Regions from separate parts of the Homo sapiens genome. Here region 1 is linked to region 2. A link means that fine-mapping ties the variant in region 2 to the expression of a gene that starts in the linked region. Tissue or cell type: whole blood. Region 2 holds a variant in brackets; the other region holds the start of a gene. All regions are shown on one strand. Distances are between the middles of the regions. Region 1 holds the start of ANXA2R-OT1 (ANXA2R overlapping transcript 1). Region 2 holds the start of FLJ32255 (a long non-coding RNA gene).

Region 1 (5,518 bases), 74 kb after region 2:
CTGTAATCCCAGCTACTCAGGAAGCTGAGACAGGAGAATCGCTTGAACCTGAGAGGCGGAGGCTGCAGTGAGCAGTGATGGCGCCATTGCACTCCAGCCTGGGCGACAGAGCGAGACTCCGTCTCCAAACAACAACAACAACAACAACCTGGACTTAGCTGAGCTGAGGAGCCAAAATCCTGCATCAATATCAAGTGTCACACTGAATAGCGGTGTGTCCTGTGGCAAACTTTATTTTTGGCGCAGTTAAGGCATTGCTACTAAGAAACTCGTCTCTGAGAAATATCGGTGGTTGGAAGGTTGTAGGGTGCTTCCACCGAGAAAGCGCCTACCCAGTGAAATACGCCTGTGACAGAAAAACCGAGGCCAAGCCCTGCCAGCAGTCTTGCCCAATCACGGTGCTGAGACAGTGAGACAGCCAGCCCGGGGAAAGTAGCCGTGCTAGGACACAGGAAGCGATACCACAAAGAACATGTGAGTCTTGTGAACAAGGAATGTTGTTTTGTTCAGCGCTACCAAGAGCGCGGCAACCGAGAAAACACGGAGTCGCCCCTAGTGGCGAAAGTGCGGATGCGAAACCGCTGGCTCGGCGTAAGAGCAGAGCCGCGGAAGAGAACCCTAGCGGCGGGGAACTAGCTCGCCTTCAGTGCTCACGGGAGAAGGCAAGTTAGAAAGAACCTGAGACGTGACACTGAAAATCAGTAGAAGAAATACGCCACATTTATTCTACCGGGGAAGACAGTGGGTAAGAAAAAAATACCGTAACATTTAAATTAAAAAATAATTAAAAATTTAAAAGCAAATAGAAATTAAAACAAAATACACTGATAACCTCGCTGCCAGAACAAGATACACCAAAAAAAAATTTTTTTTTTTGAGTATACAAAACATACAAAGCATCCTACAAACAGAAAGAAATTGCAAACAGGGTCGAATGGTGAGATCCTACCATTATATTTGTCAGCACTAAACCCGTGCCTCTTGCGCCTATCCGAAGTTTCCTCGGATTAAGAAGAAACAGCCATGGTTAAACCGGTATTTGCGACACCAACAATTATCTGTAGCCGACGTACCCCAACTTCTACATGAGTGAAAAATCGCCAGCATAGCCAGGGCGAGACTATTGCGAATTCTAACTTGGTATGATTTAAAAATTCCAGACACTGCTAAATTTTTTTAAATTGCATTCTTCAGTACCTAGATTAATACAGGAGTTATAAACCGCACGCATGGCTATAATGGGGGCTCCTATTACGGAACAGGAATTTGCTACTACTAAAATTATGTAGGCATGGTTAAAGCCAGAATTGTTACAACCAGAAATCGCAAACTGGAATAACTCTCAACTTGCTACGGTAAGAAATAACTAAACTCTGACTTGGTCAGACTAAGAAATCAGGAGTTTGAGACCAGCCCAGGCAACATGGCGAAATCCTGTCTCTAGGAAGGATACAAAAAATTACCCGGGCGTGGTGGCGCGTGCCTGTGGTCCCAGCTACCCCGGAGGCTGGGGTGGGAGGATCGCTTCAGCCCGGGAGGCGGAGGTTGCAGTGAGCCGAGATCGCGGCACTGCACTCCAGCCTGGGCGACAGAGCCGGACCCCGTATCAAGAAAGAAAGAGAAAAGAAAAAGAACCAAAGAAAAAGAAAAGTCACCATCGCACGGTTAAGTCTGCCTTGCTACAGCTAAACAGTGACTTCCTAGGACCAAGAAATCGCAGCCAGGGCTAGACCGATGCCCTAAATCGGGACTTGCTTAGGCTGAGAAATCACATTTTGGCTAGTTATTTGGACAAGAGGTAGAAATAGCGGGCACCGCGAAATCGAAACTTGCTAGGACCAAGAAGCCAACGACGGGCGAAACCGCAGGGGCCTGCGATAGAGACGCCAGCGGCGCCGCCGGGGGACTGGGTTCAGGAGGCCGAGCAGGAACCCGTGCGTCGGCGCTCGCGGCGCTGTGAAGAGACGGCGTCCGCGCAGCTCCTCTGCCTCTGGCTCGGAGGAGCGGCGGGCTCCCCCGCCCAGCGCCGGCGTCGCCCGGGAACCCCAGACTCTGCGCAACTGGCTGCGATTCCAAATCCCTCAGATCGGCTACCAGAGCGCTGCCGCCACCGAGAAAATGGAGGCACCGAGGAACAAGATGTGCCGCGACCAAGAGAACTCGGCTTGGCGAAATGGCGGTGCTGGGACCCTAAGAGTGACGCCAGCCGGAGGAGTTCCCAAGGACAACATCCATTTTGGCGGAACCAACGGTGTTGTCACGCAGAAAATGTCGACCCTCGGAAAAGAGAGGTTCTGCGACCGAGAAATTCGGTGCAACAAGTGCTGTGACAGAAAACCCCCCGCTCGGCGCTGCTGGCGAAAGAGCCAACAAAACGCTGGGTGCTGCCACCGTGACACCGACTTTAGGACCCCGGCCTCGGATGGAGAAAGGAGGGTACGGAGCCACCACATAACTTCCTAATGTCTTCAAATAGCGAAAGTGCTAGCCGGAAACTGCCGGCTGGGTTTACCTATTGGTGCTCGTGTGGGACTAGCAGATTCGAGAAACCAGCGGGACTGGAACCTAGTACACTTCGGCAGTTGAGAAATGACTTACCAGGACAAATACTGCTTCTGGCTCGATGGTGCTGCCCATGAACATCCGCCGGCTCTGAGAAACGAGCTGCACTGTCAGTGAGAAACCGTGGGCACTGAGAAACGAGCGGACTGCAACTGATAACTGCCCACCCAGTGCCACTACGACAAAGTGCTGCTGGCACTACTCCCACCCTCCGTCCTCAAATCAGTCCCCTCCCGCCTAAGAAGACCTTTATTTTTCCTAGCGAAGTCATACTGAGGGCCCCATCAACCGATCCCTTGCGATGCGCATGGGAAAAGGAGGCAGTATAGGGACCGAGAATCGGGCGGATTGGGCTGGCCCTGGTAACAAAAGCCATCCGGGTCGCCAACCGTCTTCCACTGCAAGAAACAAACCTTCCAGTGGCTGGGCTCCGCCCTTCTCCTTGGTCAGAGCCCTCCAGGCTCCTAAGGGCGAAGCCGACACCTCATCCCTTTGGAACTTGAAGTTCTCAGTCCAAGACCTCCGTGGAGAGTGAAAGACTCAATGCCTCCTGACCGAGGCTTCAGGCCTGCCCCGGCAGCTAGGTACCTCTCCAGGGGATGGAACTCTGTGGGAACTGCTATTTAATTCTGATGGTTAACTCTGTCAGATGGCCTTGATATATGGGAATAATCGTTGCAGGAGGGTAGGGGAAATAAGAATCGCAAGACTCTAGCACAGGACGTGTGGATTGATGGTGAGGCCTTTGCTCCCTCTCCCCTTGAAATCCTCAAAGGGCAGTTCCCGATTTCTATCACCTTTGAAATTCATCCCTGATGTCTTCTCCATCTTTGGGAAGTGCAATGCAATTTCAAGCTCTTGAATCTTCCCTCTCCCACATTTGTCAAATATACTGACGCTACAAACTCCTTTCTTACAGGAAACCTGAAACTGCCATTGAGCAGAAGGAAAACATCCCTTTCCAGAACCTTTCTCGTTTTTCTAAAAATCTGCACTTTTGGAAGTGATCCCCCAAAGAGACCTCCAGACTCTACCATGAGTGTCTCCAGCTGAACTCATCGTGTCTAATCCTCACCCTAGCTTATCCTGTTCAAATCATTTCCATCTTTTTCTGGATGAACCTGGGCGGATGTCAGACCAGAGAAGAGCACAGAATGTACCAGAGAGGTAAGAAGACCCATTTTGGGCTCTCACTTCTCACCCACTCCCAAGATGGTCACCTCCAGTCTTCCCCCCTATACCTTACCCTTTCTTCAGCTAGCCAAAACCTGCCCTGGTACTTGAGGCTTCTTCAGTTGCCTTCTTTTGCAGGCAGTAGAATAAAGGAAAGAGGGCAGTGTCAATAGAAGAAAAGTTACAGCCACTTTATCTAATTGAAGATACTGTGCAGAGCCTTTGAAAAAACAAAATATCTCACCCACCATTCCTCTCTCCGTTTCCACCCTAGCTTCCTATTTTAGCAAAAATGGTGGGATCAGCACCTCTGGAGGGAAGGGGTCACTCTTCCAGGTTAGGAATGTGGACAGGAGTTATGGAGCTTACTTCCCTAAAGGAGGAGGCATTCTAGTTCCGGCATTCAGATTCTGTCTGATTCCAATATGGTGTTTGTGTGGGGTGGTCAGAGAAAGGGCAAGTCGGCAACTGTATATTCCTCAGCAAGAGACTATAAGACATTTGCATTTGGAAAATCAGGAGAGATGCTGATATGGTTTGGCTCCGTGTCCCCACCCAAATCTCACCTTGAATTGTAATAATCCCCATGTGTCAAGGGTGAGACCAGGTGGAGATAATTGAATCATGGGGTTGGTTTTCCCCATGCTGTTCTCGTGTTAGTGAGTGGGTCTCACGAGATCTGATAGTTTTATAATTGCCTGGCATTTTCCCCTGCTGGCACACATTCTCCTGCGGCCCTCTGAAGAGGTGCCTTCCATCACGATTGTAAGTTTCCTGAGGCCTCCCCAGCCATGCAGAGCTTTGAGTCAATTAAAACTTCTTTCTTTATAAATTACCCAGTCTTGGATATTTCTTCATAGCAGTGTGGGAACAGACTAATACAGATGTGGTAGAGTTGGGTGCTGGGTGGCAATGCTAAGTGTATGCAGGTTCTAGGCACCAGATCAAATCTGGAATGCAAACTGTGGGACACAAACCACAAATGATGCCCAGCCTTTAATACTTTCTTTCATTGTTTGTCATATAGAAGAAGAAACAAAGAATAAAGAAAAGCATTTTTTTTGAGACGGAGTCTCGCTCTGTTCCCCAGGCTGGAGTGTAGTGGTACGATCTCGGCTCACTGCAACATCCACCTCCCAGGTTCAAGTTATTCTCCTGCCTCAGCTCCCAAGCAGCCAGGATTACAGGTGCATACCATCACACCTGGCTAATTTTTGTATTTTTAGTAAAGACAGGGTTTCACCCTGTTGGCCAGGCTGGTCTCAAAGTCCTGACCTCAAGTGATCCACCTGCTTCGGCCTCTCAAAGTGCTGGAATTACAGGCATGAGTCACAGTGCCCAGCCGCAAAGTATATTTTTGTAAAATTTCATCAAGATAAATCTGGCTAAACCAATAAACTAATAATAACAAAACTTGGGTTATTGTTGACTAAAGGAAGGTGGCACAAAATGGAAACATTTTTAAACATTCAAAAAAAAAAAAAGACTGGTCAGGCGCAGTGGCTTACACCTGTAATCCCAGCACTTTGGGAGGCCAAGGTGGGCGGATCATGAGGTCAGGAGATTGAGACCATCCTGGCTAACACGGTGAAACCCCATCTCTACTAAAAATACAAATCCTGGCTAACACGGTGAAACCCCGTCTCTACTAAAAATACAAAAAATTAGCCAGGCGTGGTGGCGGGTGCCTATAGTCCCAGCTACTCGGGAGTCTGAGGCAGGAGAATGGCGTGAACCCAGGAGGCAGAGCTTGTTTGCAGTGAGCCAAGATCGCGCCATTGCA
Region 2 (5,000 bases):
CGGGACCATCCTGGTCAACATGGTGAAACCCCGTCTCTACTAAAAATACAAAAATCAGCTGGGCGTTGTGGCACGCTCCTGTAGCCCCAGCTACTCAGGAGGCTGAGGCAGGAGAATCCTTGAACACGGGAGGCAGAGGTTGCACTGAGCCGAGATCGCGCCACTGCACTCGAGCCTGGTGACAGAGCAAGACTCTGTCTCAAAAGAAAAAAAAAAGAAATAGGAAGAGAGAACTGATGGTAGGTATTTTGCTTTGCAATGACTCCAGACTGCTCTTCTATTTCATAGTGTCTGTAACTATGTGGGTGAGAACAGTGTAGTTTTTCCTTTATTCTTGCAACCACAGGACCAGGAGGCAATTGGAGGAGCCTCAAATAGCAGGGAAGGTTTTGGCTAGCTGAAGAAGGGGTATGGTGGGAGGGAGATATTGAGGCAAATCCCTTGGGAGACAGAATTGCAAGGGCAAAATAGATTTCCTTACCTGGCAGTGCCTTCTCTGCCTTTGTCCTGCCATCGCTTCTGCCTAGGATCCCCCAGAAAAGGATAGTACTGGTTTGCACAGGAGCAGAAGTGGTGAAAATGGGAAATGATGAGTGTGGATGGAGATGCTCATGGCAGGGTCTGTAGGTCTCTTTGAGGGGGCTCAACTCACAAAGTGCAGATTTTTATTGAAATATGAATGCTTGTAGAAAGGACATTTTCCTACTGAGCAATGGCAGTTCCATATTTCTTATCAGAAAGGAAGTAGGCCTCAGTCTGATTGAACAGTGAGGAGAGGGAGGATTCAACACTTACAAGTTCACCTGCATTGCATTTCCCAGAAGAAAGAAGAAAATCAATAACGCATTTCAAAGATCACGGTGCTAGAGACAGAGAACCACAATTTAAGCTTTTCCCTGGGCTTAGAGGCGGATGTCTCACTGCCAATTTCACGTCCAACACCGGAGCCTCGCAGTCCATTTTTCTCCCCAGCTGTTTTAGAAATATCCCCAAATATCAAGGACATCTGAATGAGTGAACCATCAGAATAAGGAGCGATTCCCACAGAGTTCCATCCCACAGGGAAGGGACGGGACCAGCGGGGCAGGCCTGAAGCCTGGGTTGAGCGGCGCTGTGCCTTTCATTCTTCACCGAGATCTCGGACCTAGAGTTTCCAGGTTCCGGAGGGATGCGGTTGTTGACCGCTAGCCTAGAATCCGTGAGGGCTGAACCGGGACGAAGGCCTAGGACAGAGAGGTGGTGTGGAAGGACCCAGCCGCGGCCACTGGAAGAGCAGCTTCCTGCAATGTAAAGTGTTCGCGACCTGCATTTGTTTTGCTTTCTTCCTGGAGGAGCCAAATCCGTCCCATTCTGGATCCTTATTCCAGCTCCTTTCCCTCTGCGAATCGCACTTGGTGGGTCGCGGGGCCCTCAGTAATTAGGGATCACGGATCAGCCAAGAAAAATACAGGTTTTCTTAAGCCTGAAGCCACTGACTTGAGGAGGGAGCGTGGGAGTAATGTCAGTAGCAGTTTTTTATTTCGTTTTCGTTTTTATTTTCTAGTCACTAGGCCACCAAAGAAAGTTCCACCCAACGGCCAGTCGATCCGTCGCAGCGACTCTCTTTTCCCTGAACGGAGGGTTTATGGCTGACACCTCCACTTGTTTCTCAGAGCCGGGGCTGACTGCCGGCTGCATCTTTGAATGGCGACCAAAAAAGACATGCATTTGTCTGGCAAAGTCGCTGGCGTTCGCCTGGTGCCCGCGCTTGCCGGGTCCTAGAGCAGCCAGATTTTCACACCAGCGAGTCCAGCGCCCAGCGCCACTCCGCCTTCGGATCACCGGTTTCTCACATCCGCAGCAGCACTGGCCTGACAGTTTTCCGGTTGCGACAGCGCTAGTTGAGCCAAACAAAACGTTTTCCTGCTTGCTCTGGGCGTCCCATTCTCCATCCGAGGCCTTCTAGTCCCGGTGTCACTGTCGCAGCACCTGGCGTTCGTTAGCTCTTTCACCAGCGGCGCGGAGCGGGCGGTTTTGCTGTCACGGCACATGTGGCACGGAGTTTCTCGGTGGCCGAAACCCTCTTTTTTCTCAGAGTCCAGTTTCTTGGTGACAGCGCTGTTGGTTGCGCCATAAGGAATGTTGTCCTTGACAACCCGCCGGCCGCAGTCATTCGCAAGCTCCAGGCACCGACATTTCGCAGAACTGAGGTCTCTCGGTCTCAGCACAGCTCGTTGCTCGATGCCTCCATTTTCTCGGGGCGACAGCACTCAGGTCGCCGATCTGAGGGATTCGGAGCTTCCCCAGCTGGGGTGAGCCTGGCGTTCCCGGGCGGCGGCGGCGGCGCTGGGCTAGGGGAGCCCGCCGCTCCTCCAAGCCGGTGACAGGGGAGCTGCCCGGGCGCCGTCTCTTCCCAGCGCCGCCGCAGAACCCGCAGAACAGCTCGACCTCCAGAACCCTGTGCTGTGGCGGCGGGGCTGG[C/T]GTGTCTGTCGCAGGACCCCGCAGATTCGTCTGTCGTTGGCTTGTTGGTCCTAACAAGTTTCGATTTCAGGGTGCCTGCGTTTCTTTTTCTTTTCTCTTCTTTTCCTTTTGTTTTGTTTTGAGACAGAGTCTCGCCGTGTCGCCCAGCCTGGAGTGCAGTGGCGCGATCTTGGCTCACTGCAACCTCCGCACCCCAGGTTCAAGGGATTCTACTGCCTCAGCCTCCTGAGTAGCTGGGATTACAGGCGCTCGCCACCACGCCCGGATAATTTTTGTATTTTTACTAGAGGCGGTGTTTCATCATATTGACCAGGCTGGTCTCGAACTCCTAACCTCAATAATCTGCCCGCCTCGGCCTCCCAAACTGCCAGGATTACAGCATGAGCCGCTGCGCCCAGCCGGTGACTACGATTTCTATCCCCTGGTTCAAGTCGGGGAATAGCCAAAATGTGATTTCTCAACCCAAGCAAGTACCCACTTAGGACAAACACCAGCCTAGCCCTGGCGGCGATTTCTAGGTCGTAGGAAGTCGATGTTTCGCCACAGAAAGGCTGAGTGACCCTGTGACTCATTTCCCAGCAACTCCGGGTTTCCTGTAGCCTAATCATAACAAACGCAGAGTTAGCCCTGCCTCAAGTTTCTTTTTTCTTTTTCTTTTTTTTTTTTTTTTTTTTTTTTTTTTTGAGACAGAGTTTCTTTCGTCCAGGCTAGAATGCAGTGGCGCCATCTCGGCGATCTCGGCTCACTGCAACCTCCACCTCCCGGGTTCAAGTGATTCTCCTGCCTCAGCCTCCCAAATAGCTGGGATTATAGGCGCCCGCCACCACACCCGGCTAATTTTTGTATTTTTAGTAGAGACGGGGTTTTGCCACATTAGCCAGACTGGTCTCAAACTCCCGACCTCAGATGATCCACCCGCCTTGGCCTCCCAAAGCCTCAAGTTTCTAAGTCGTGGCAAGTTCCGGCTTCCTACTAGTACGGCTTGCTTTAGCTGCGCAGGAGATGTTCAACTCCTGTAGAAATCTGTGTACCAGCGAATGCGATTCATTTAGGTTTAGCGATGACCAGTTTAGCAGTGCCTGGGAGCTCTTACACCAAGGCTAGCTGCGCAACATCAAGTCCCGCCTTAGCTATGTTGGTGTTTTTTAAACTCCCATGGAAGTCAGGAAATGCCGGCAAAAGCGATTTCTGGTTTACGAAGCTCGGTTTGACGATAGCAATTTCCGCCGAACGCGACTTTTTCCTCTTGTGGACCAAGTCGGGATATATCAGCTACTACGATTTTTTAGTCGTAAACAGGTTTAACCATGACTGGGTTTTGTTGGTTTCTTGTTGTTGTTGTTGTTTGTTTTTGTTTTTGTCCTAAGAAATGTAGACTTAGGTGTAACATGTACCGGTTTAGATCTAACAGGGATATCCTAATCACAGAATTGCTTCTTTTGGCAATACTTGTAATTTCTGCTTTGTAGGGTTGGTTCTCTCTAATTTTTGCTTATTTTTAAATGCTCTTTTTGTGTCTTTTGCTCTGAGAACAATGCTACCGGTAGTTTCCAGTGTGTTTGCTTTGCCTTTTTATTTGAATTTTAGAATTTATTATTTTAAAATTTTATCTTATTTAAATGTTATTCATTTTTCTTCTACTAATTTTGAGTATCACAGCTTCGTACTCCTTGACTTGCATTCTCTCAGGAGCTGGGGAGCCAAGCTCGGTCTCCGCTTCGGTGGTTTCAGGTCCCGGGTTCTGTCTGGCGGCTCTGCTTCTAATGCGGAGCTGGCGGTTTTGCAGCAACGCTTTTGCCAGTAGCGCCCACTGAGCGGTTTTTCAGTTGCTGCACCGTTCTTAGCGCCCAACGGAACGTTTCCCGTACGCGGAGTCCATAAGTTGTCTGTGTCGTCACTTTCTCGGTTCTGGCACCGCTAGTATCTCCTAGGAACTTCCTAAACCCGTTTTACGGTGCAGAACGGTAATTGCACCGAGCCTCTGTGCCAACTAGTACTTCCGTAATACCGTTAGCCGGCTCTTTTCCTGTCACAACACATTAAAACGTGTTAAAACACATTAAACGGATTAAACACATTAAACGGATTAAAACACATTAAAACGTCACAACACATTTAAACAGAGTCGGTCCATTCCTCCAGACAGTATGTTTCGGGATGGAAGCACCCCTCCTAAGAATCCGCAGTTTCTTTCTAGCAGCACCGTTATGGCGCCTAAACGGATATTTGTTTGGCAATACCAGCGCTATCCGCTAGGTGCCGGCGCTTGCTGAGTCTCAGCGCCGCCAGATTCTTGCTAGCGAGGTCCAGAGCAGTGCAGAGACCTAGCGGACAGTTTTCCGGTGGCAGCAATGCTCATTTCCCGGACACAGATGGTTTTTGGCCCCTGAAGAACTCTTTAATCCCTGCGTTTTGTAGCGCTCGTTCTCTGTAAGGTTTGCTTAGTATCCGTTTCATTTCGACTTCTTTTCTCGCTGTTTTTCTGTCGGAATTACGATTTGTTTTGTTTCTATGTGCTCTCTAGAATTTTACCGGTTTTC

The links. PIP is the estimated chance that this variant, and not a neighbour inherited with it, causes the effect.
Region 1: it holds the start of ANXA2R-OT1, and the variant in region 2 is fine-mapped to the expression of ANXA2R-OT1 in whole blood (INTERVAL, PIP above 0.99).

The regions. Positions count from the first base shown.
Region 1 is chr5:43,064,489-43,070,006 of GRCh38, forward strand. ANXA2R-OT1 (ANXA2R overlapping transcript 1) reads right to left here and starts at 2,951. Exons shown (of 3, transcript NR_104651.1): 1 at 2,810-2,951; 2 at 2,599-2,669. LOC100132356 (a long non-coding RNA gene) reads right to left here and starts at 2,483. Exons shown (of 1, transcript NR_034127.1): 1 at 699-2,483. It overlaps LOC100506639 (a long non-coding RNA gene), which reads left to right and starts at 2,535. Exons shown (of 3, transcript NR_102752.1): 1 at 2,535-3,298; 2 at 3,482-3,729. RefSeq lists an enhancer at 2,163-2,562.
Region 2 is chr5:42,990,358-42,995,357 of GRCh38, forward strand. It overlaps FLJ32255 (a long non-coding RNA gene), which reads right to left and starts at 2,976. Exons shown (of 2, transcript NR_104643.1): 1 at 482-2,976. It overlaps LOC105374746 (a long non-coding RNA gene), which reads left to right and starts at 1,918. Exons shown (of 3, transcript XR_007058755.1): 1 at 1,918-4,890. RefSeq lists enhancers at 1,451-1,600, 1,941-2,150, 2,451-2,580, 2,850-3,144. The variant C/T (reference allele first, on the strand shown) is at 2,461.